Linked DNA regions of Homo sapiens. The protein of the gene in region 1 binds, or shares a complex with, the protein of each later gene. Each region holds a gene or a part of one and is shown in the gene's direction. Other genes may lie near its edges. The genes, in order: AP3B1, ARF1 and AP3M1.

Region 1 (7,105 bases):
CAGTTTCCAGTCCAAGATAATATATTTAATTTAGTTGCCATGTCTCTTTAATCTTCTTTAATCTGGGATAGTTCCTTAGCCTTTTTTGTCTTTCATGAATTTGACATATCTAAGGATTGCAAAGCCTATTATTTTATTTTATGTTAATCAGTTTTTGGGTTTGCTGGTGTTTCCTCATGTTTAGATTCAGGTTATGTATCCTTGGCTGGGATACTACCATAGGTGATGCATGCTTCTTGAACTATTACATTTGGAGGCATAGGTTGTCCATCTTCATGATGTTAATTTTCCTAGTCACAGGGTTGTCCAGTTTCTCTGTGGTGTCATTTCTGTTTTTTTTTTTTTTTTTTTCAAATTATCTGTGGGGAGACACTGAGACCATGCAGATGTCTTGCTCTTTTTTAAATGGACCACTTCTACATTTAACAACCATTGATCAATCTCCTGAACCTGTCTTTTCCACAATGGCTGCAAAATGGTAATGTTTCAGCTGCAACTCCCTCTGCTGTTCTGCTCTTTGGCTTCTTGGCCTAGAGCTCTGTGTTCACTGATCCTTCACTAACCATCTCAATGATGCCTAGGTACTTCCTAGTCATAGTATTATCGGCAATTTTTGTTTTCTGAATTTAATCTTATTTATCAATATTATTTATCTTCTCCTCTCTTCAAACAGAAGCAGAATTAGATGGCTTTATGAAAGTAGATCCTATACCTAATTTATTGGCTAAAAAGGCCTGTGTATTAGATTATTGGCTTCAAGATTTTCAATTTCTTTATTTAAAATGTAAAGAACTTATTTTTGTACTCTTATTTTTTATTTTTTGAGACATGTCTTACTCTGTTGCCTAGGCTGGAGTGCAGTGGTGTGATCATGGCTCACTGCAGCCTCAACCATCTGGGCTCAAGTGATCCTTCCCACCTCAGGCTTCCGAGTAGCTGGGACTACAGGTGCATGCTACCATGCCCAGCTAATTTTTGTATTTATTGTAGAGATGGGGTCTTGCCATGTTGCCCAGGCTAGTCTTGAACTCCTAGGCTCAAGCAATCCGCCTGCCTCATCCTCCCAAGGTGCTGGAATTGGAGGCGTGTACCACTGTGCTTGGCCCCTTCCTTCTTTTTAAAATATTCTCAACTTTTATTTTCTGTTTTTTTCTAAGTTGTTTTTCTTCATTTAAAAAAAAACTTCTTTTAACCAATTTGGGTATGTGTGCCTATAATTAAAAATAATTTTAATAATTCTGTTACTGGATTAAACATTTAATTAGGAATTAATTTCTAGAAACAGACAAGACTAATTAATTTTTCTTAATTACAATAGTAAAGCTACTAAATTTGTAAATCTCTTTTCCTTTGAGAGCATCTTGGTGTATTAGAAGGAAGACTGAGGCTGGGAATGGTGGCCCCTGCCTGTAATCTTAGCATTTTGGGAGGCCCAGGCAGGAGGATTGCTTGAACCCAGGAGTTCCAGACCAGCCTGGGCAACATAGTGAGACCTTGTCTCTATAAATGAAAATGGGAAGAAAAAACAAAAAACACTGGGCCCAGAGTTAGAAGACCTGGATTTAAGTTGATGTTTTCCATTTGTAGTAGTGCTTCCTTGTTCAAGTTGCTGATCTCTTCAAACCTCAGTTTCCTCATTTCTAGACGGGATGTGATAATACTTGCCTCTTTTGTGAGGATCTCATGAGATGGTGTACTTCAAAGTGATTTCTAAACTAGGATATTAACTAACGCTATTTGGGAAAGTTGGTGAAGACTTCACTGAGGTAGTGACACTTTAGATCTTAAAGCCTGAGGTTTTTGCCAGGGGGAGGAAAGATGGATTCTTTAGGCAGAGTATGTAGAAACCAGAAGATTTGCAAAAGAAAAAGCATGTTCAAATGAGATGGATATTTAGACATCACAATTATGAATAGTAGGTAGTAAAGTATGGGAATGGATGAAATCACCCAGGGAAGACTTTTCTTGTTAGACGAGAAGGCAGTTTGGACAAAACCCAGGGGACAACAGGATATAAAGTATGAATGGAAGAACTAGAAAAAGAGACTGAGCTCAGAAGGGTGGGAAAACACAGGAAGGTTTAAAAAAGAAGATGCTAACAGGAAAATTAAAAGAAGGAAATGTTCAGCTATGTCAGGAGTTGTAGAGTAAGGGCAAATAGAATGAAGGCTGAAAAGAGGCCCTTGGGTTTAACAACTGAAAGGTGACTTTAGCAGCCAGTAACTTAGCAATGCAGTACCTCCTGCACACGTTGAAAGGTAGCATTTTTACTCTGTTTAAATCGGGGTGGGCTTTTCATTTGTTTAGATTCAAAGAGCTAATTTAGATCCAAGCAAAGTACTGCATGCTTTCCTGTAGTCAGTAATACAACCCAGTGTATTTGGATTGCATCAATAAAGCCTGACTTATTTTTTAACTTAAATCTTATTCATTGTCAACTTTACAATATCAAACATGAAAATTCTATTACATTCATTCTTAACCTTTAATATCAGTGATTCTCAGGAGAGTCCAGTAGGAAGATTACATGTGTCTGTGGTTTGTACGCAATTATAGCAACTCTGACTTTATCTCCACTACTTTTTGTATCTTTCTGAAAGGCATATAGAAATGCAGCTGAGTGAGATTCATTTACTTAGAGGGATGTTATTGAATATACTTTCTTAAAAATACAATTTTATTAATAGTAACGCATTATATTTGACCTACCTCAAAGAGTCATTGTGTCTCACTATGGGTTCTAAACTTGTTTGTGTTTAAGTCCATTTTTTATTAATACTTAATTTTATCTAGTGTCTGTACCATATTTTTGGGTGTTTTTTTTTTTCATTTAACATTTTTTCATGGTCTAGTTGTTTAGAGCTTGCTCTACTTTCTTTTTGCTTATCCTAGTATTTCTCATTTAAACTTTATCTCATTGTGTATTTTCAGTTTATGTAGTTGCTCAGTGAATATTTCTTAAATATTTATATAGATAAATCGTTCACACATTCTGCTCATATTAAAGACTGTGATTTGTGTGAAGGTGCCTAGCAAAGTGTTTGGCTCATAATTTTGCTTAATAAAATATTTTCAGATCCTTTTACTCAATTCAGTGATTTAGATTCCATTAACATTTGCTCTCTCATTAGCCAATGTTGTTAAAAAATGAAGCATGACTGATTCCGTGGACCCTATACAGAAGGAAACCCTCATCTGGTATCTCCATTGTATTGTAGTACAGCATCACCCTGAAGCTAATTTTGTGTAGTTCACTTGGGTCTTTGCTGTGGTTAGGATTAACTGACTCGGAATTGTCATGTAGGTATGGAATGAACTTTACAATCAGGATTTTTAGTCTTTATCCCAGTCTTCAAAGGCATCTTTACCTCCCAGTCTTGGATTATTCCATATGTATGGTTCATTCCTCTGTGTTTTCACCATAAAAATGCATAACAATTATAGTGTCTTTATCTTGTTTTTAAGAAACTCAGACTTTATTTGGAGAGATTAGGCTAATGTGAACTAACCGTCAGTAATTCAAGTATACAATTAGTGTTAAATTGTGTAATTCAACTTTTCAGTGTGGCATACCTATTGAAAATTATTTGTTATAAGCCTTTGTTTGTGTAAACAGTGATTTACTGAAGAAAATGGAAATGCTGGAATTTTGAAATGTTAAGGACATTTTAGTTTGAGACGTTGAAGTGTTGGTGCCCTGAGTCATAAGCATGACATGAAGAGGCACGGGCTCCTTCCTCATTGTGAATTCCTTTCTCTTGTGCTCAGGAGTTCAGGGTTGCTGCTATGAAAATATGCTTCAGTCATGATTTTGTCAGCATACTGTTATACATCTGATCATCTTTAGTTATGAAGATTTAAATCTCTTGTGTTCTAATAATTCCAGGTTTGATAACTGATCTGTCTTGTTTATTATGTTTAGCTAATTGAAATTTATGGTCATTAGATCTGGTACTAGAGCTGTTAACATATTTGCTTGCTACATATGTAAACTGGATCCTACTTTTTTTTTTTTTTTTTTACAAGGGGTACATTAAGTTATTAGGAAATTTTAGTATTTTATTGATTTTTCACTAAATTTCAGCATTTGTTCCAAGGTGACTAAAAATAAAAGAAGAAACTGTATACTAGCATCTGCAGTGCATTCCTAGCAGCTGAACTAGTTGTTTTTGTCTTCATAAAAATAAGATCGTAAGTTTTACAAAGGGCCAACTATTCAAATTAAGGATTGTCATTTCAGTGGTGCAGTAGGGTTCCATTTATGATTTAATTCTTGAAATATATTTCAAATTAAATAAGATTTTACTACATTGAATAGAAATTTGATGAAATACTGCCTGTAAACAGAGTCTTACTTTCCAACAGATTATAAAACCTTTTATCTTATTTTGCTTTGCTTGCATATCTCCTTGAAGGAGAGTTGGTTCTGACTTCTACATTTTGTCTTAATAAATATTCAAGAAAATATTCTTTCTTGACAGTAGGATATGTTATTTTTAAAATCACTGATCTGGTAAAATTTGAGGAGAAAAATCTGAAAATTAAATTTCAAGCCTTACCATTAAATCATAAGATGTGAGATTTTATGTTATTTAAAAAAAATTTAGTATTTGGAGCAACATTACCAGAGCTGAATGATTAAAGCACATGAAAAAGGCAGACAGATGGTTGGTTGAAATGTTCTTTTTTGCTGCATGAAAAGTTATAAATGCTCATAGAATGACAAATGTATTACAGTGAAATAATTTGACAGTATTTCACTTGTGTATATAAATGAACTACTGACAAAAACAAATTGCCTGCAGTCCAAATTCAAAATTTAAAATGAAGAGCTTAAAGTAGAATAATCAAGAAGGAAATGATTTTCCTCTATTTCATATTATTATGAATAACGTTGGTTCGTGTATTTAGAGAAGGCTTATTTAGCCTATCAGCTGGAAAGACTTAATAGATCTACAAAAGTGAACAGTTTATAGCCAATATCTGTTTATTGATGGACTGATTATTTATATTGCTGATAGGAACCAGCCTAATTAGAAGTCCACTGTCTTTAATTCAGCTGAGTGAGTTGGCATGGTAGCTGGACAAATGAGAGAAGAATGAATAAGGCCCTGTCTCAGTTTGTTTTATGCTGCTATAACAAAAAACCTGAGACTGGGTAATTTCTAAAGAATATAATTTTATTTCTCACATTTTTGGAGGCCAGGAAGTCCAAGATTGAGTCACAGGCAGGTTTAGTTTCCTGGTGAGGGCTGCTCTTTGCTTCTAAGATGGTCTGTTGTTGCCGCATCCTCTGGAGGGGAGTAATGCTGTGTCCTTACTGGGCAGAAGGTGGAAGGGCAAGAGAATGGAAGACTGTGAAGCCTCTTTTGCAAGGGCCTTAATCTCATTCATGAAGGGAGGAGCCCTCATGACTAAATCTTAAAGGCCCCACCTCTTAATGCTATCATATTGGCCATTAAGTTTGAACATCTGAATTTTGGAGAGGACACATTGAAACCATAGTAGGGTGGTTCCAAAATCATAGGTTGGCAGAGCTAGGCATCACCCAACTTTATTCTTGGAATGGGTTTTCTGCAAGTTTTTAAAGCCTAGGTTGAGAATGTGGTCAAGAAGGATGTGGGGGAAATTAATTAGTAAAATATGAGGGCAGAGAGATAAGGGGCAGAGTGGAAGGCGGAGACCTGATTGTGTAGGGCCTTGTAAAATCATTGTTAAGGTCTTTGATTTTACTCTGAGTGAGAAGGGATGCCATTTGGAGAGTTTTGAGCAGAGGGGTGAAATGATTGTTTACCCTTTAAAGGGACATTTTGCCTCTTGAACTAGGAGTGGACTGCAGATTTGAGGCAAGGACCAGCAAGGAGACTATTACAGTAATTCAGGCAAGAGAAGGTGATCCGATTGGTGGTAGTGGAGAGAAGTGGGTGAGTTATGGATATATTTGAAAGGTAGAGCCAATGAGATTTGCTGATAGTTTGGATGTGATATGTGTGTGGGAGAAAAGATATCAAGGGTGGATACAAAGTTTTTTGCCTACACAGCTCGAAGTTTGGAATAGCTGTCAACTAAAATGAAGAATATTGTGCAAAGAGGAATTTTTTTTTAAAGGGGGAAAGGGACCAAGAGCTTGTGCATGTTAAGTTTGAGATGCGATTAGGCATCCATGTGGAGATACTAAATAGGCAGTTGGATATCAGAGTGTGGAGCTTAGAGGAGGAGTCAGGCTAGAAGTATAAATTTGGGAGTCATCAGGTATCATGGGATTGGATGAGACACTGAGGAAGTGAGTGTAGAAAAAGGTCAGAGTCAGTCAGTCCTGGGACATTCCTGGAGTAATTGTGTCAAATAATACAAATAGGTCAAGTAAGATGATTACTGAGAAGGGAGTTTTGGATTTGTCACTGGGTGGACTTTGGTGACCGTGACAAGCAGTTTAGGTGCACTGGTGGGGCTGAAAGCCTCATGAGTGGGCTCAAGAGAGAAGGAAGAAGAAGAATTGTGGTTAGTATTTTTTTTTTTTTTTGAGACAGAGTCTTGCTCTGTCGCCCAGGCTGGAGTGCAGTGGCGTGATCTCGACTCACTGCAAGCTCCGCCTCCCGGGTTCACGCCATTCTCCTGCCTCAGCCTCCCGAGTAGCTGGGACTACAGGCGCCCTCCACCACGCCCAGCTAATTTTTTTTGTATTTTTAGTAGAGACGGGGTTTCACCGTGTTAGCCGGGATGGTCTCCATCTCCTGACCTCATGATCTGCCCACCTCGGCCTCCCAAAATGCTGGGATTTACAGGCGTGGGCCACCGCGCCTGGCCATTAGTATATTTTTAAGTATAGAAGAGCAGAGAAATGGAGCAGCACTTGGAGAGGAATGTTATGTCAAGGAATTTTTCCTTAAGGTAGGAGAAACTGTATTATCTTGTTTGCTGATGGAACCAACTGATGTAGAGGAGAGAAAATAGATGATGCATTAGAGAGAAGGAAAATTGCTGGAGAATTGCTGATATCCCCTTTTTCTTCTAGAAAACTTACAGATACAGGTTAGCTGAAAAATAACAACCCTAATTTCAATATCCAGAAGAAATCGGTTAATGTAGTATATATCTTTTAGCC
Region 2 (7,625 bases), on another chromosome or scaffold:
GGAGTGTCCGAAAGTAGGCAGAGGCCCACAGTCAGGGCCACTGTCTGAGTCCAGGACAGGCAGAAGGCTCATGTGTGCAGGCAGGGACCACTCTAGCTGACAAGTGGGGTTTCACCAATGCCTACGATAAGTGATGCACGGGACTGGGGAAATGGTGCCATCAGACACTTTAAGACTTGTGGCATGTCACTTTGGGGATGCCAGGTATTTTGTTATCCTGATAGGAGGAGTGGATCGGTACATGTACCCAGAGTCAGAACTTCTTTTGTTATTAGCACCTGAAATGATAAAACCAGGCCGCCTCTGTCACTCCAGTTGATCGAGGAGTATAAACAATATTTCCAGCCAGGCGTGGTGGTACCCCCCTGTACTGCCAGCATTTTGGGAGGCTGGGTTAGGAGGGTCATTTTCCCAGTTCAATACCAGCCCAAGCAACAAAGCAATACCTTGTCTTTAAAAATAAAAATAAAAAAGAGAGAAAATATTTACAGATTTCATGCAACAGCTCTGAGATGAAAAGTTCTGATATTTCAGCAACAAAAACCACAGGTATTGCTAATACTGCTTTTGGGGAATGCTGCTTGCATTTAAGATGGGAGGAAATGCTAAATGTCACTCAGAGGTTAAGAAGAGCCAAGATGTGCTTTTCTGCAATCCCTCCCCAGGGTGCTCACCTCACCGGCTCCCCATTTGTCCACCCAGGCATGACAATAGGCTGGAACCAGAGAGAAAACAGTCCTTTCCCTGAGAAGCCAGCCTGCCTGGGAAAACAAGGTCCCCTGAGAGCTAGTCCAGGGGAGGGACATGTGCAGCTCTAGGCTTTCATCTGAGGTTTGGAGGGCTGGCAGGAGATGGGGAAACTGAGGCCGGAGTGAATATAAGGGGAAACAGGTGATGCTTTAAAAGGACCAGAAATCAGACGACTGTGAGCAAACTCCCTGGAGTTCACGGAACTCAACTGTAATTTCCTAAGCCACTGTGTAGTGCAGGCAAGCCGCTGGGACCCTCACCACTGGCCACCGGCTTCCCGAATGACCCCAGACCCCAGCCCAGGCCCAGAAGGCAGGGCAGGGCCACCCTGAGCTGGGAGGTGGGGGCTTCTCCCAGGGCCCATGCAGTCAGCATAGCCGTAATAATTCCTGTGGCGTGCTCCAGGTCCTGTGGTGTGACCAGCCAGAGGGTAGGCTTTGGGTAGGGGTCTGGGGAAGAAGGAAACAGGGCCAGGCAGAGGGGACAGCAGGGTCCTATCCCCACCTCACCCCCCAGAGAAGTCTTTAAGGGTATGAGTTCTTCCTGCCACAGGTCTTAGAGGTTGAGTGTTTGGACTAAGCCCTGAGCGTGAGGAGGAAGTACTGACTCTGGTGGAGGCAGCGCCACCCTGCAGAACACCCTGGCATCTTGCAGTGTGATTCTCCAGCTTTAGCCCACCTAGAGTCTCCCAACAGAGAGAGCGGGCAGAGCAACCATGTTGGAGACAGAGTGGGGCAGGATATCCAGAGAGGTGAACTCTGTCCTGGGATGCCTGGTGTAGTAGTGAGCTCCCCATCACTGGAGGAATCCAAGATAACATTGCAGTCTGCAGAGGCACCAAAGTGCTTGTTCCCCAAGAGGGAGGGCAGGGCTGGGGAAAGAGTAAAGGTGTTGGCAATAAGCAGACTTGGGCATGGAGTAGTCAAGCTCCAGAGGGGTTCCATCCTAGCTGTGTGACATCAGGTACGTGTGAGACCTCTCTGAACATCTGTGGCCTGGCTCAAATGCCGCACACTTCATAGCCCTGCACTCAGAGGTTGACCAAAGTGCCTGCCAGGCCTGAGGTGGGCTGGGGTCCCCTTCACCTAGCCACAATGGCTGCCTACTAGGTCTCCCACATGGGTATTCCTGCTCCTTTGCCCCAGACAGCCCATCTGTCCTTCCAGCCACCTTCCCTAGGAGGCCAGCCCGTTCTGTTGTTTGGCATCCCTGTCTCTGACCTGGTTCTCGGGTGCAGCCACCCCCAGAGGAGAGAAGCCCAGCCCAACCTGAGCTGGCGTCTTTGAGACTGACAATGGAGGCGGCCACGAAGGCTGGAGGGTCCCTGCCCAGCCTGGCCCCCAAACCCCTCCCTCCAGTCAGCTCATCCCACCCCTCTTGGCTAAACCTCATCTGATCCCAGGGACCTCAGAGGAGAGAGAAAGGGATCCCTACTCCCTAGGCAGCGTTGGGGGAGCACCTGGGCCTCAATTACCCCAGGAACTCACTGCCTGACACTTCTTAACTCCCTAGTGGGTCTCCTTCCAGGGGCAGAAATCTGGGTGTGACTACCTGGGCTCCCCTGCGCCTGTTTGGCCTGAAGACATCATCTTTGCCCCGGTGGTGGTGGGGAGCCCAAACCAGGAGCACAGAATCAGCAGGAAGGGACTTTTTATTATTATTATTTTCAGACAGGGTCTCACTCTGTCACCCAGGCTGGAGTGCAGTGGCACAGTCCTACTAGGTCACTGTAACCTTGAACTTCTGGGCCCAAGCGATCCTCCCACCTCAGCCTCCCAAGTAGCTGGGACTACAGGTGTGTGCCACCACACCTGGCTATCTTTGTAAAATTTTTGTAGAGATTATGTTGCCCAGGCTGGGGAAGGTACATTTCTTAACCCTAGGGCTGGCTATACAGGAATCCATTTTATTACTTTTTAAACTGTGCATGTATCTGACATACACTCTTTCCTGTCTGCATTTTTTCACATTAAAAAATATATATTTTAAAGGGGCCAGGCACGGTGGCTCACACTTGTAATCCCAGCACCTTGGGAGGCCGAGGCGGGTGGATCACCTGAGGTCAGGAGTTCGAGACCAGCCATGGCCAACATGGTGAAACCCTGTCTCCACTAAAAATACAAAAATTAGCTGGGCATAGGGGCAGGCGCCTGTAATCCCAGCTACTTGGGAGGCTGAGGCAGGAGAATTGCTTGAACCCGGGAGGCGGAGATTGCAGTGAGCCAAGATTGTGTCACTGCACTCCAGTATGGGCGACAGAGCAAGACTCCATCTCAAAAATAAATAAATAAATAAAAAGTATTTTAAAGGAAGGGGAGGCAGGCTCTGGTTCCCACACAATCCCCGCTCAGTGACCCTGGAGCCACCCCTGGCCACGCTCTGCCAGCAGAGAACCAAAGCCAGGTCCCTTCAGCCCTAAAGAGGCCATAACCACATGTAACCCCCGTGAAATGTCCGCACATGGCCCCGCTCTGGCTGAGCAGGGAGAGGCAGCACAACCAGAAGGTTCCACAGGCATCCACAACCCTCCCTGGGGCTTTCCAAGAGTATCTGAGATGCCTGTAGGGTGGGAGACGTCCTTCCCCTAAACAGACAACCCTGCCACAGCTTCACAGAGGTGAGATTTCGGAAGGGAGCCCCAGGCAGAAAAAGGGACTAAATTTGGGGGCAGGAGGGTCACCGCTTTTGGGGACCTTCGTAGCCCCCGCAGGTGCAGCCCTGGGGGAGAGATCTGCCCATCGCAGCCTCCAGAGGCAGTGAGGACGCCCTGCCCAAGGGGCAAGCAACGTAGGTGATGGGGGCAGCAAAGGGGCGCAGGAGGCCTGGGCCAGGCCCAGTGATCCCACCCCTCAGGCCCTGCCCCCGGGCCTCGGCCTGCACAAATCAGGTTGATTCCCGACCTCCACAATACCCAGGGCACTGTGCTGCAGGGACACTTTCCCACAAGCCCAACCCCTCACAGCAGCACAAGGGAAGAGGCAAGAAGACCTGAGGGTGGTGGGCAGAGCCAGGCCTCCAGCACACGGAACACAGAGGGACTGCAACGGTCCTCTGTTCAGGTGCCTGAGAGCGGGATCTCCTCCGCCTCAACTGGATCTCAGCTTAAAGGCCAGCTCATTAGAGACCACTGTGACCTCCCTTCTGGGCGGCCGTCCCCAACCCTGGGCCCCACCCCCACGGCCCCCGCCTCACCCCGGGGTCCCCAGGCCACCTCCTCCTTTGCTTCATCTGCGGCCAGCTCCCCGGCGTCTGCTCCGGGCCCAGGTATGAGCCCGCGCGTCACTGCGGCCGCCGGGGCGCCGAGGCCAGTGCGGGGACACAGCAAGCCTCCCGCCTTCGGACCTTCCGCCGTGGCCCCGCGAGTGCCACAGGTTTCCACAGGGCCGGGGCACGTGGACCCGCGCAGCCTGGGAGCCAGGAACCCCAACCCCGGCGAGGGGCGCCTCGCACCCCCGTCCTCACGCAGTCCCCGAGGCCTCCCGGTGACTGCCGGGTGTGGGAGGAGGAAGGTGGCAACCAGCCCCGCAGCTCCAGTTGCTGCAGGAGCCCCCCGGGCCTCAGTCTCCAAATACGCCAAACGGGCGGGAGTGAGCCACAGGCTGTCTTCGCGGAAGACTCACAGGCGCAGGCGCAGACGGGTGCGCGCCCCTAGGGTGCGCGCGAGCTAAGACCGCGGCCCGGGGCAGGGTGTCCCCGGCCCCGCCCCCTGCAGCCCTACCGGAGCCAGCGCGCCTGCGTCGCGGGCGCACGGTGGGCGGAGTTCCCGGCGTCTCCGCCCCTTACCCGGCGTGCCCCGCGCCCGGAGGCGCTGACGTGGCCGCCGTCAGAGCCGCCATCTTGTGGGAGCAAAACCAACGCCTGGCTCGGAGCAGCAGCCTCTGAGGTGAGGGCGAGGGGCGCGGGCCGGTGTGGGCCGCAGAGACGTTGGAGCCGGCGGGGGCTGGGGACTGGCCTCGGGGCGACTTGAGGTTCGCGAAGGGCACGTCGACCCCCGCGGCGGCGGCGGCGACAGGGCCGGGCCGGGGGCGGACGCAGACGGGCCGGGCTGAGGCTGGGGCCCGGCCGGAGTCGGGGCTGGGCGGACGGGCGGGTCGGTGAGCTCCTCGCACCCCTCACAGGTTCCCGAAGTCGCTCGCGGCCGCTTGTCCTCCTCTGCCTGTCCCTGCCCCCGCCCGTCGCCCGGAAGTCCGCTTGGACGCCGGGCTCTTCTCCAGGAAACCTGGGCTTCCTGCTTCCCTCGCCTCTGCCTTTCTCGTTTCCCGAGGCCGCCCGCGCGTGGACGGTTGGGATTAGCGGCCGCGGGGGCCGGTGGGGGTCGTGGGGCCTCCCCCACCCGAGTACAGGCGAGCGAGCGGCATCCGGGCGGACCCCCGCCTCGGGGACCGGGAAACTGAGGCTCGGGCGGCCTGAGACGCCGTCAAGGTCATGTAGGTGGTGGGGGCTTGCATCTTCGCCTCCCGACTCCATCCAGTTCGTGTTTGCTGTGAAGACGGTACCGGGTCAGGGGTGGTGAGAGCGGGCGGGCAGGTGGACAGGAACCCCGTGCCCTTCCCTGTCTGCTGAACGGAATGCGTGGACCTCCGGGGGAGCCCAGAGTGCCTCCCTTCACACCAGTGAGACGCAATTTGGGGTCAGCACTCAGGGCACCGGTGGCCTCCAGAGGGCCGGTCGATCTTCGCTTTAACTCCAGGGTGGTTTCCTTGACGTTGTCGGCAGTAGATAAGAAGGCCTCTTCTGAGCTGGTGAATCTTTAACCTACCTGAATCTTTAACCTGCCTGCGGAACGACCTGCTCGCAGACTCTAGGCCGCAGAGGCCGGCCCCAGCGCTCTCTCGGAGCACAGCCTGGGTGGTTACGGCGTGTGAGATTGGGGCTGGACAGCCGTGCGCACCTAGAGTGTTAAATAACCATTCCGACGGCACCTCCTGGCACTCCCTTTCAGTCCAGGCAGCCAGTTGCTGCTTTGCAGGAATTGAGCAGAAATGCACTCGGAATCGCGGGCAGGAAAAGAAGGGAGGTCGGAGGCTTTGGATGGTCCCCGAAGTCGCCGCCTAGTTGAGAGCTGTAGAGTTGGTGCCACTGCCCCTGTTGGAGTGGGCAGTTGTAGTTCTTGTTTCAGAACTAGTGGTCAGCAGTTTTCTTTGCCGGCTGTTGCAAGGCTGGTGGTTCTGGCGTTTTCCGCAGTGTGTTGGGAGGAGTGTGAGATGCCGCGGTGCAGTTGTGTGCGGCCCCTGTGGCCCTCTGCTGTTGCGTTAGCCATTGTCTAACACGTGTGACCGCATGGATGGTGTCCTCATTTAATTTGAATTTTCACCAGCACTGCCTAGGTAGCCAGAACCATAAGGTCCTGAAATGCCGTACTATTAGCTGGGTCCAAAATTGAGAAGAATTGAGTAGTGTAAATGTTAGTCACACATCTCATTGGACACATTGTTAGAGTGTGTTGTCCATGTTTTCACATGTTGGTAGACTGGAGAATAGCTGTCACTTGTCTTCAGGCGTATCTTGTTGAAAATAAATCCAAATCACTGCAGCAGTAGGAATATGCTGTTGCCTGTGAGGCAGATTTTCGGATTTGCTAGTTGAAAAAGATTTGAAACAGTTGGTTTGGACAACAGCTGAGTCACACAATGACTGTGAGTGAAAAGCAAAAACTGGTTCTGTGCCCCTCACAGTTCTGGTTTTGTACATCATGTGGTCTAGCTATGGGCTGTACCTCTTGCACAATATGGAGAGGACATTCAGACATCTTCAACTGCTCATCTGCCCCTACGGACCAGACAGGCTTGAAACTATAGGAAGATGCATTTGACCTTTCATTTTTCAGTTCAGTAGAATTTAATATGGACTGTCAGCCGCTGCGGTGATCATGGAAGTAGACCTAAGAGAAAAAAACTTGTGCAAGTTCACACGTGGAGTAGTATATGACCATGGTTTCAGAGAACTGAAGCAGTTCTTTTTAGATTCTTCAAATTAAATGTCTCCTTGGTGTATTTAAACCTGCTGTTACTCACAGGCCAGGCTCCACCAAGCTTTCCTACACACTTCTTCCTGAGCTGTGACCATTCTCCTGAGCAAGAGGCTGCAGCCAGCCTGGGCTGGCGGGCCCATACTGTCTCTCATAGGCATTCTCTCCCCTTGACCTTTCACCTCCGTAAATTCAAGAGGGTGAAAGGAAATAGAGTGCACTGTCAAAGATAATTGGGAGAGAAACACGAAAAGGCCTCGCAGTGGGGATCTTAAATTATGAGAACTTGTGTTTTCTGTGTTGTGCCTGCTCCTCATTGGCGTGGATGGTTGGTAGGGGCATTCTGCCCGTAGCGTCTGAAGTGGTCTTTTGGAAAAGATTTGGCCCCTTCATGTTGGGATTCCAGGACTTGCCTTCATCCTCAGGTTAATATTCTCCTGTGATTGTTACAAGCTCTCTAAGGCATAGTTGCATTTATTGCCTTACAGCTGCGCAGCTGCCGCACCGTCCAGATAGGTAGTTTCACATTCTCAGGTGGGTCAGATGACCTTGTTAGCGACTTGACAGACATGTCCTGGATGCTCTTTGTTCCCAGGAGGCTCTCAGGTCCTCCCCCAGGGTCCTGTCACTCAGCCACCTACAGGGATGGGGAGACAGTGAGGCTGGCTGATAAGCCATAAAGTCCTTGACTAATCCTGGTTTCCTGGTTCTCACACAGTGGTAACAAGGGCTTGCAGCCGGTTGTCAGCCAACAGACTGGGAAGGGTGGTGCTTCTTACAGGCCCTGATAACAGGAGAAGCCTAAATGACAAGAGAAGAGACAGGGAAAGCATAAAAGGCAGGCAGATTTTCACAGGCACAGCAATTGAAAATGATTCTGTTTAGAAGGCAGACATTCTCCCACACC
Region 3 (7,105 bases), on another chromosome or scaffold:
CAGGGTTTCGCCATGTTGGCCAGGCTGGTCTCGAACTCCTGACCTCGTGATCTGCCCGCCTCAGCCTCCCAAAGTGCTGGGATTACAGGTGTGAGCCACCGCACCCAGCCCACCAAAACTACCTTTACCAAGATCACCAGTGTCCTCTGTGTGTTAAATCATGCATTCTCAAAGCAGATAAAAACTGCTTCTTGTGAGGTGAAAAAAATATAATACTCTTTTTATGTGTAAAGCACAAATACAATACATAAACAGAGAATATTCTGTGGTATTAAAATTTTATGGTGATATTAATTAGCTTCATTTAATTATTCCACATTTCATAAATCATAACATCTGGTACCCCTAAATATATACAACTATAATTTGTCAATTTACAGTTGAAAAAGAAAGAATAATAAAAAGTTTTATGGGTGAGGAATTTGATTGGCAGGGTGGTGAGAAGATGGAGTCTAAAAGGGCTCCTTAGCAGGCATTAAGGAAAAGAAAGTTTAAAAAACACTCTTAAATCAACAGACATTTTCAATTCTTTTTTGTTGTTGTTGAGATGGAGTCTCGCTCTGTCATCCAGGCTAGAGTGCAGTGGCGCCATCTCGGCTCACTGCAGCCTCCACCTCCCGGGTTCAAGCGATTCTCCTGCCTCAGCCTCCAGAGCAGCCGGGATTACAGGCACCCACCACCACACCCAGCTAATTTGTTGGTATTTTTAGTGGAGATGGGATTTCACCATGTTGGCCAGGCTGGTCTCGAACTCCCGAGCTCAGGTGATACTCCCACTTTGGCCTCCCAAAGTGCTGGGATTATAGGTGTGAGCACCACGCCCAGCTGACATTTTCAATTCTCGTAGCTTAACCTCTTTGTGCCATGTAACAGTATTTACCACTCCATTCTTCTGGAAATACACTAATAAGCTATAGTTACTAAAAACCACCCTGTTTTTTTTTTTTTCTTAGGACTCTTCAGTCACATCTTGGTCATTCTTTAGGTCCACTTCCTTGACCCACCTCCTACTCAAATGTTGGAGTTCCTGCCATAAGCTCTCTTCATACTATGCACATTCTTTCTTTTGTTTCAATTCTCCTTTTGATTAATTCCCATTAACAAAAAATCCTGATTACTTACAATTCTGATTCCAATCTGGCTTCTCTAAAGCACCAGAAGGGTATATATAATAGTTTTTTGAATATATTTATTTGGGTCAGATGTATCCAGAATTGGTCAAATTACACAGGACCAGGCCAAGTGACACATCTCTCTCATCTCCACACACCCCCTCCTCCAAGCCTAAATGTTTTTTAGCACAAAACCTAAATGTTTCTCTTATCTTTTCACTGTACCCCATCCTCATAGTCAAGACTCTAGACCAGGCCATCACCACTCATCTCCCAACTGGTGTCACAGTGTTCAGTTACCGATTATCCAGTTTCCGCAGTGTAATTAGTATGATCTTTCTAAAAATGTAAATCGGATTGCATGATTAATTAAAAAAATTATAAAATGACTTTACATTGCACTAAGAATAAAGTCCAAACTCCTTAACAAGTTTAGCATGCTCCATGAACCAATCAGTCTCTGCTTACCTCCTTGTCCAGTTTCATCTCCCCTCTTCCCTCCACCTTCCATATTTGCTAAATTTATACTGGATTTATTTGTCTTGTGTTCTCTCTCACCTCTAAGCCTTGTAGATTCCCACAGCACACTATATTTCCTGTATCATCGTAGGAATTACATCTTAACTGTATTAAGTTGTCTTCTCTGCTCATCTCTAAATGCTGTGAGTATAGGAACTCTAATTTTGTTTGTTCTTATATACCCAGTGCCTCAAAACTCTGTGTTGAATGAATATGTGGTCAAGATATTGGCTGAGAATCAGAAGAGTAGATGCTTTTCTGGTCTCATTCTCTCAAGTTCAGTATAGGCCCTTCTGTGCCTCCATCATATTATATATAGAAGGAATACATTTTTGTTTTTAGACACTGTCTTCCAAGAATATTTTGACTATTGTAAATGCATTGCTTGTGAATTACCCAGGATGATTATAAAATGTTTAGTAAAAAGGATTTATGATGTATTTAAGCTGCAGTCAAAGCTCTGGTGGGTCTGCCTCTGAACACAGTTTCTTCTAGTGGCTTTTAAATAAGCTGGGAGAATTCTGTTTTATGACTCAAAAGCCACTAGGAACAAAAAGATGGTTGTGGTAATAATGAGTGTGTAGTTTTCTCAGAAAGTTTATGAAAATAATAATTAAAAAAATAACTGCAGCTACCAAAAGGACGATAAATAAAGAAACAGGCTAATTTACACTGCAACATGGTATTATTTAATTGTTATATGCATTAGACCTTGGTCATAATATGGATAGAAGAAGTAAGCTCTCTTTTCCTATTATAGAAGGTTAAGATGGGTTTTAAAGCTAAGCACAGTCGAGAACTTACAAGTGTTATGCTTTCATCTCAGCACTAAGGATAACAACAATAAATCTAGGAGGCTGGTTTAACTTTCTGTATTCTGAGACCTGAACTACTGCCAATAAAAACAACTTCGGTGGAAACTTTCCTGGAAAGAATTTTTCACCAGCTTAAGAGGATGAGTAGAGATCTGGCCCTAAAATAAAGTAACTACAAAATCACTTACTTTCAAAACAAGCAACTCTTTCAGAGTGTATTGTGGCAAAGGAGCACTATAAATCCTTGTGAACTATATTTTCGATAGGATGAATGATTTTAGATAACCTGTGTCGGTGCTTTTAAATATAACTTCCACTCTAAATAATTTATTAAACTTCCTCAGCATAACAACTAGAATGTCTTTTGCCTCCTAACTAAACAAGAAATGTCTTTTACCTCCTCCTCTTAAATCATAAGCTAGGCTGGGTGCAGTGGCTCATGCCTGTAATCTCAGCACTTTGGGAGGCTGAGGCGGGCGGATCACGAGGTCAGGAGTTCGAGACCAGCCTGGCCAACATGGTGAAACCCCATCTCTACTAAAAATACAAAAAATTAGCTGGGCATGGTGGCGCATGCCTGTAATCCTAGCTACTCGGGAGGCTGAGGCAGGAGAATCGCTTGAACCCAGCAGGCGGAGGTTGTGGTAAGAGGAAATCGTGCCATTGCACTCCAGCCTGGGCAATAGAGCAAGACTCCGTCTCAAAAAAAAAAAAAAATCATAAGCTAAAGCAGCACATTCATGCACTGTTCAATATATTAACTACTAACCATATATGGTTATTTAAATTTAAATTAATTAAAATTAAAACTTCAGGCTAGGCTTGGTGGCTCACACCTGTAATCCCAGAACTTTGGGAGATCAAGGTGGGAAGATCACTTGAGCCCAGGAGTCCAGGATCAGCCTGGGCAATATAGGCAGACTTTGTCTCTACAAAACAAAAATTTGAAACTCAGCTGTGTGTGGTGATGCACGCCTGTAAGCCCAGCTACTCAGGAGACTGAAGTGGGAGGATCGCTTGGGCTCTGGAGGTGGGCGTTGGAGTGAGCCAAGATGACGCAGCTGCACTCCAGCCTGGGCAACAGAGCGAGACCCTATCTCAAAAAAAAAATAAAAATAAAAAAGCCGGGCATGGTGGCTCACGCCTGTAATCCCAGCACTTTGGGAGGCCGAGGCGGGTGGATCATGAGGTCCGGAGATCGAGACCATCCTGGCTAACATGGTGAAACCCCATCTCTACTAAAAATACAAAAAATTAGCCAGGCGTGGTGGCGGGCTCCTGTAGTCCCAGCTACTCGGGAGGCTGAGGCAGGAGAATGGTGTGAACCTGGGAGGCGGAGCTTGCAGTGAGCAGAGATCACGCCATTGCGCTCCTGTCTGGGAGACAGAGCAAGACTCCGTCTCAAAAAAAAATTAATTAAAATTTCAAAAAAATTAAAACTTCAGTATTGGGTACATTAGCCACATTTCAAGTGCTCAATAGCCATGGGTGTAGTGGCTACCATATTAGCACAGATAAAGGACATTTCCATCATTGCAGAAAGCCCTGTTGGACAGTGCTGTATTAGAACGTGTTCCTAATAATTAGTCTCTACAAGGCAGATAAGAGCAGGAGCTCAGAATTCAGCTGGATTTAGGTTTGAATCCTAGCTTACTGCGTGATCTTAGGTAATTGACCTAACTTTTCTGAGATGACATTGTCTTATCTGTAAAATGGGGATAATAGTAGTATTTATGGTGTAGCATTGTGAAAATAAGATGAGATAAAGTGTCTAGCATAGTGTCTGGCCCATAATAAGTACTCAATACATTTTAGATAGTATTAATTCATTTATTATTCATTATCTTTAATGAATAAAACACTTTGAATGGGGACTGAGTACAGTAGCTTCACTTTGGGAGGCGAAGGCAGGCGGATCACTTGAGGCCAACATGGTGAAACCCCATTTCTACTAAAAACAGAAAAACTAGCTGGGCATGGTGGTGCACACCTGTAATCCCAGCTACTGAGGAGGCTGAGGCACGAGAATTGCTTGCCCATGGGAGACGGAGGTTGCAGTCAGCAGAGATCACACCACTGCACTCCAGCCTGGGTGACAGTGGGAGACTCTGCTCAAACAAACAAACAAGCTTTGTTCCCAAGTAGCTGGGATTACAGGCGCACGCCACCATGCCCGGCTAATTTTTGTATTTTTAGTAGAGACAGGGTTTTGCCATGCTGGCCAGGATGGCCTTGAACTCCTGACCTCAGGTAATCCACCAGTCTTGGCCTCCCAAAGTGCTGGGATTACAGGCGTGAGCCACTGTGCCTGGCCAAAAATAACCACATTGAATGGGGCCAAAAGATTAATTTTTGCAAAGAATGCTGTGTTCCATATGTGACTCACCTGAAGTGCCCAAATCTGAGTCTGCTTGTGGATTACAGTGCTCCACTTGAAGTCATACATTATATATTTCAGATGCTGATTTTCTTCCAAGAAAAAGGTGTAATAATAAAAATTTAGTTGCAGATCTTATGGTTGGATATTCCTGTTTCATTTAAAAAATGAAAATGAAAAGTTTATCAGCTAAAGATTATAGTTAAAATCAGCAGGTTCTATATAGCAAGTCTAAGTATTCTAATGGCACTTATATTAATACCCAGACAGAAATATAAGACACAAAGCAAGCCTACTAAGCAAAGCATCTGACTAGATAAAGTAGAAAAATTTGGCAGGTTCCAACCCTGAGGTGTCAGAGTTTATTGCTAATAACTCAAGTTGATTTCTTGGCTAAACAGAGGGCTTTAAACAAAGAAATTTTTTGGTTCTAATTAAACAGGAACCCTAAACTGTTAACAGTATTCATACTTTATTAATACAATAATTACTAAAACATATCTTAGTAACTAGTATTATTGATAACTACTGAACATGTGTCGAATGGGAAGAGGAGATCATCACCACATATTCTTTAAATGTCAGCCGCTTTCATAAAAGAAAGGGTTGATGTTGTTTTCTGTCAACAGAATCAAATGAATCAATTCTGGAAAGTCTTCCTTTCCTCTTTGGAATTTATCTTCATTCATAGAAACTGTATTCATAGGTCTTAAATTCTTTCTTCTTAGACTATAGTACTATTACTTGGAATGATTGAGCCACTAGACTAAACACCTGATACTGGTGCTTATACACGTAAAAGATAGGAACAAGGTAAGATAATTAGACATTTTTCCATTGTCCCCCATATTGCAGGGACAATAAACTTCTTATAGGAAGCATAACTAACACTCAGAAAGTATGCAAATCACAATGTAAAGCCTAATGAGTTATCATAGAAGGAACACAGCTTGTAAACATCATGCAGGTCAAGAAATAAAACATTGGCCAGGTGCGGTGTCTCACTCCTGTAATCCTAGCACTTTGGGAGGCTGAGGCAGGCGGATCACGAGGTCAGGAGTTCAAGACCAGCCTGGCCAACATAGTGAAACCTCGTCTCTATTAAAAATACAAAAAAAAAAAAAAACTAGCCAGGTGTGGCGGTGTGTGCCTGTAATCCCAGCTACTAGGGAGGCTGAGGCAGGAGAATCTCGTGAACTTGGGAGGCAGAGGTTTCAGTGAGCCGAGATAACACCATTGCACTCCAGCCTGGGCGACAGTGTAAGACTCCATCTCAAAAAAAAAAAAAAAAGGAAAATAAAAAAGAAATAAAACATTACCAGCACTCTAGGAGATCATCCCCATGGCCCTCCACTCTCCATAAAGGAAACCATTTGATTTAACGTAGATTAGTTTTGCCTGTTCTACAACTTCATATAAATGGAATCATACTGTGTATATTCTTTTGCATCTGGCTTCATTTATTCAACATCGTATTTGTAAGATTCGTTTGTATGTATATATTCTTTGAGTAAATGTCTTTTCAAATCCTTTGCCCATTTTTTAATTGGCTTGTTTATTTATTTATTTTTTATGTTTTAGAGGCAAGGTCTCCCTCTGTCACCCAGGCTAGGGTGCAGTGGTGGGATCATAGTTGACTGCAGCCTCAAACTCCTGGACTCAGGCAATCCTCCCACCTCAGCCTCCCAAGTAGCAGGGACTACAGGTATGAGCCACTATGCCTGGCTAGTTTTTAAATTTTTTTATAGAGACGGGGTCTCAAACTCCTGGGCTCAAGCAATCCTCCCTCCTCAGCCTCCCAGAGTGCTAGGATTACAGTTGTGAGTCACCACACCTGGCCCTTCTTATTATTGAGTAAAAGTTCTTTATATTTTCCGGATAGGGGTCCCTTTAAGATATATGGTTTCAAATATTTACTATCATTTTGTGAATTTTTGCTTTCTTGATAATGTCCTTTGAAGCACTAAGTTTTAAATTTGATGGACTCTGGGTTATCTATTTTTTATTTTTCTTGTCTGTACTTTTGGTATCGTATCTTAAAAAACATTGTCTAATCCAGAGTCAAAATCTATGCATATTTTTTCTAAGAGTTTTATCATTTTGGCTTTTCCAATTAGGTCTTTGATACATTTTGTGTTGCTTTTTGTATCCAATTTCATTCTTTTGTATGTGGAAATCCAGTTGTTCCAGTACCATTTGTTGAAAAGGTTGTTCTCTCTCCAACTGGTCACCCAGGTCTTGGCACCCTTGTTGAAAATCAGTTGACCATAAATGTAAGGGTT

What was found.
Region 2: the proteins of AP3B1 (region 1) and ARF1 are in contact, whole or in part, in a cryo-EM structure (PDB 9C5B), measured with the Homo sapiens proteins. Residues at the interface, in NP_003655.3 of Homo sapiens: Glu52, Asn54, Pro81, Val84, Lys85, Val87, Ala88, Asp111, Leu112, Leu114, Leu115, Ile117, Ser118, Thr119, Gln121, Arg122; in NP_001019397.1 of Homo sapiens: Glu17, Arg19, Tyr35, Ile46, Pro47, Thr48, Ile49, Gly50, Phe51, Asn52, Val53, Glu54, Lys73, Ile74, Leu77, His80, Tyr81, Asn84.
Region 3: the proteins of AP3B1 (region 1) and AP3M1 are in contact, whole or in part, in a cryo-EM structure (PDB 9C5A), measured with the Homo sapiens proteins. Residues at the interface, in NP_003655.3 of Homo sapiens: Leu60, Lys64, Val67, Gly68, Ile70, Ala71, Lys72, Gly73, Ile92, Glu93, Lys96, Leu97, Val100, Arg104, Glu107, Asn128, Gln129, Leu130, Arg137, Arg143, Ser163, Pro164, Tyr165, Lys168, Asn169, His172, Gln175, Lys176, Leu202, Ser206; in NP_001307192.1 of Homo sapiens: Met1, Phe15, Leu16, Glu17, Trp20, Lys21, Ser22, Val23, Gln26, Val42, Glu43, Asn44, Val45, Pro46, Pro47, Val48, Ser50, Tyr55, Ser58, Ile59, Tyr60, Gln71, Thr72, Glu73, Val74, Pro75, Pro76, Leu77, Phe78, Ile80.

What each region holds. Positions count from the first base shown.
Region 1 is NC_000005.10:78,284,667-78,291,771, reverse strand, and holds part of AP3B1 (AP-3 complex subunit beta-1), read left to right. Parts: intron 1-7,105. UniProt on the Homo sapiens protein: Subunit of non-clathrin- and clathrin-associated adaptor protein complex 3 (AP-3) that plays a role in protein sorting in the late-Golgi/trans-Golgi network (TGN) and/or endosomes.
Region 2 is NC_000001.11:228,078,133-228,085,757, forward strand, and holds the start of ARF1 (ADP-ribosylation factor 1), read left to right. Parts: upstream 1-4,575; 5' UTR 4,576-4,633; exon of another isoform or gene 4,634-4,718; intron 4,719-5,001; exon of another isoform or gene 5,002-5,242; intron 5,243-7,625. UniProt on the Homo sapiens protein: Small GTPase involved in protein trafficking between different compartments. Modulates vesicle budding and uncoating within the Golgi complex. In its GTP-bound form, triggers the recruitment of coatomer proteins to the Golgi membrane.
Region 3 is NC_000010.11:74,140,724-74,147,828, reverse strand, and holds part of AP3M1 (AP-3 complex subunit mu-1), read left to right. Parts: intron 1-7,105. UniProt on the Homo sapiens protein: Part of the AP-3 complex, an adaptor-related complex which is not clathrin-associated. The complex is associated with the Golgi region as well as more peripheral structures.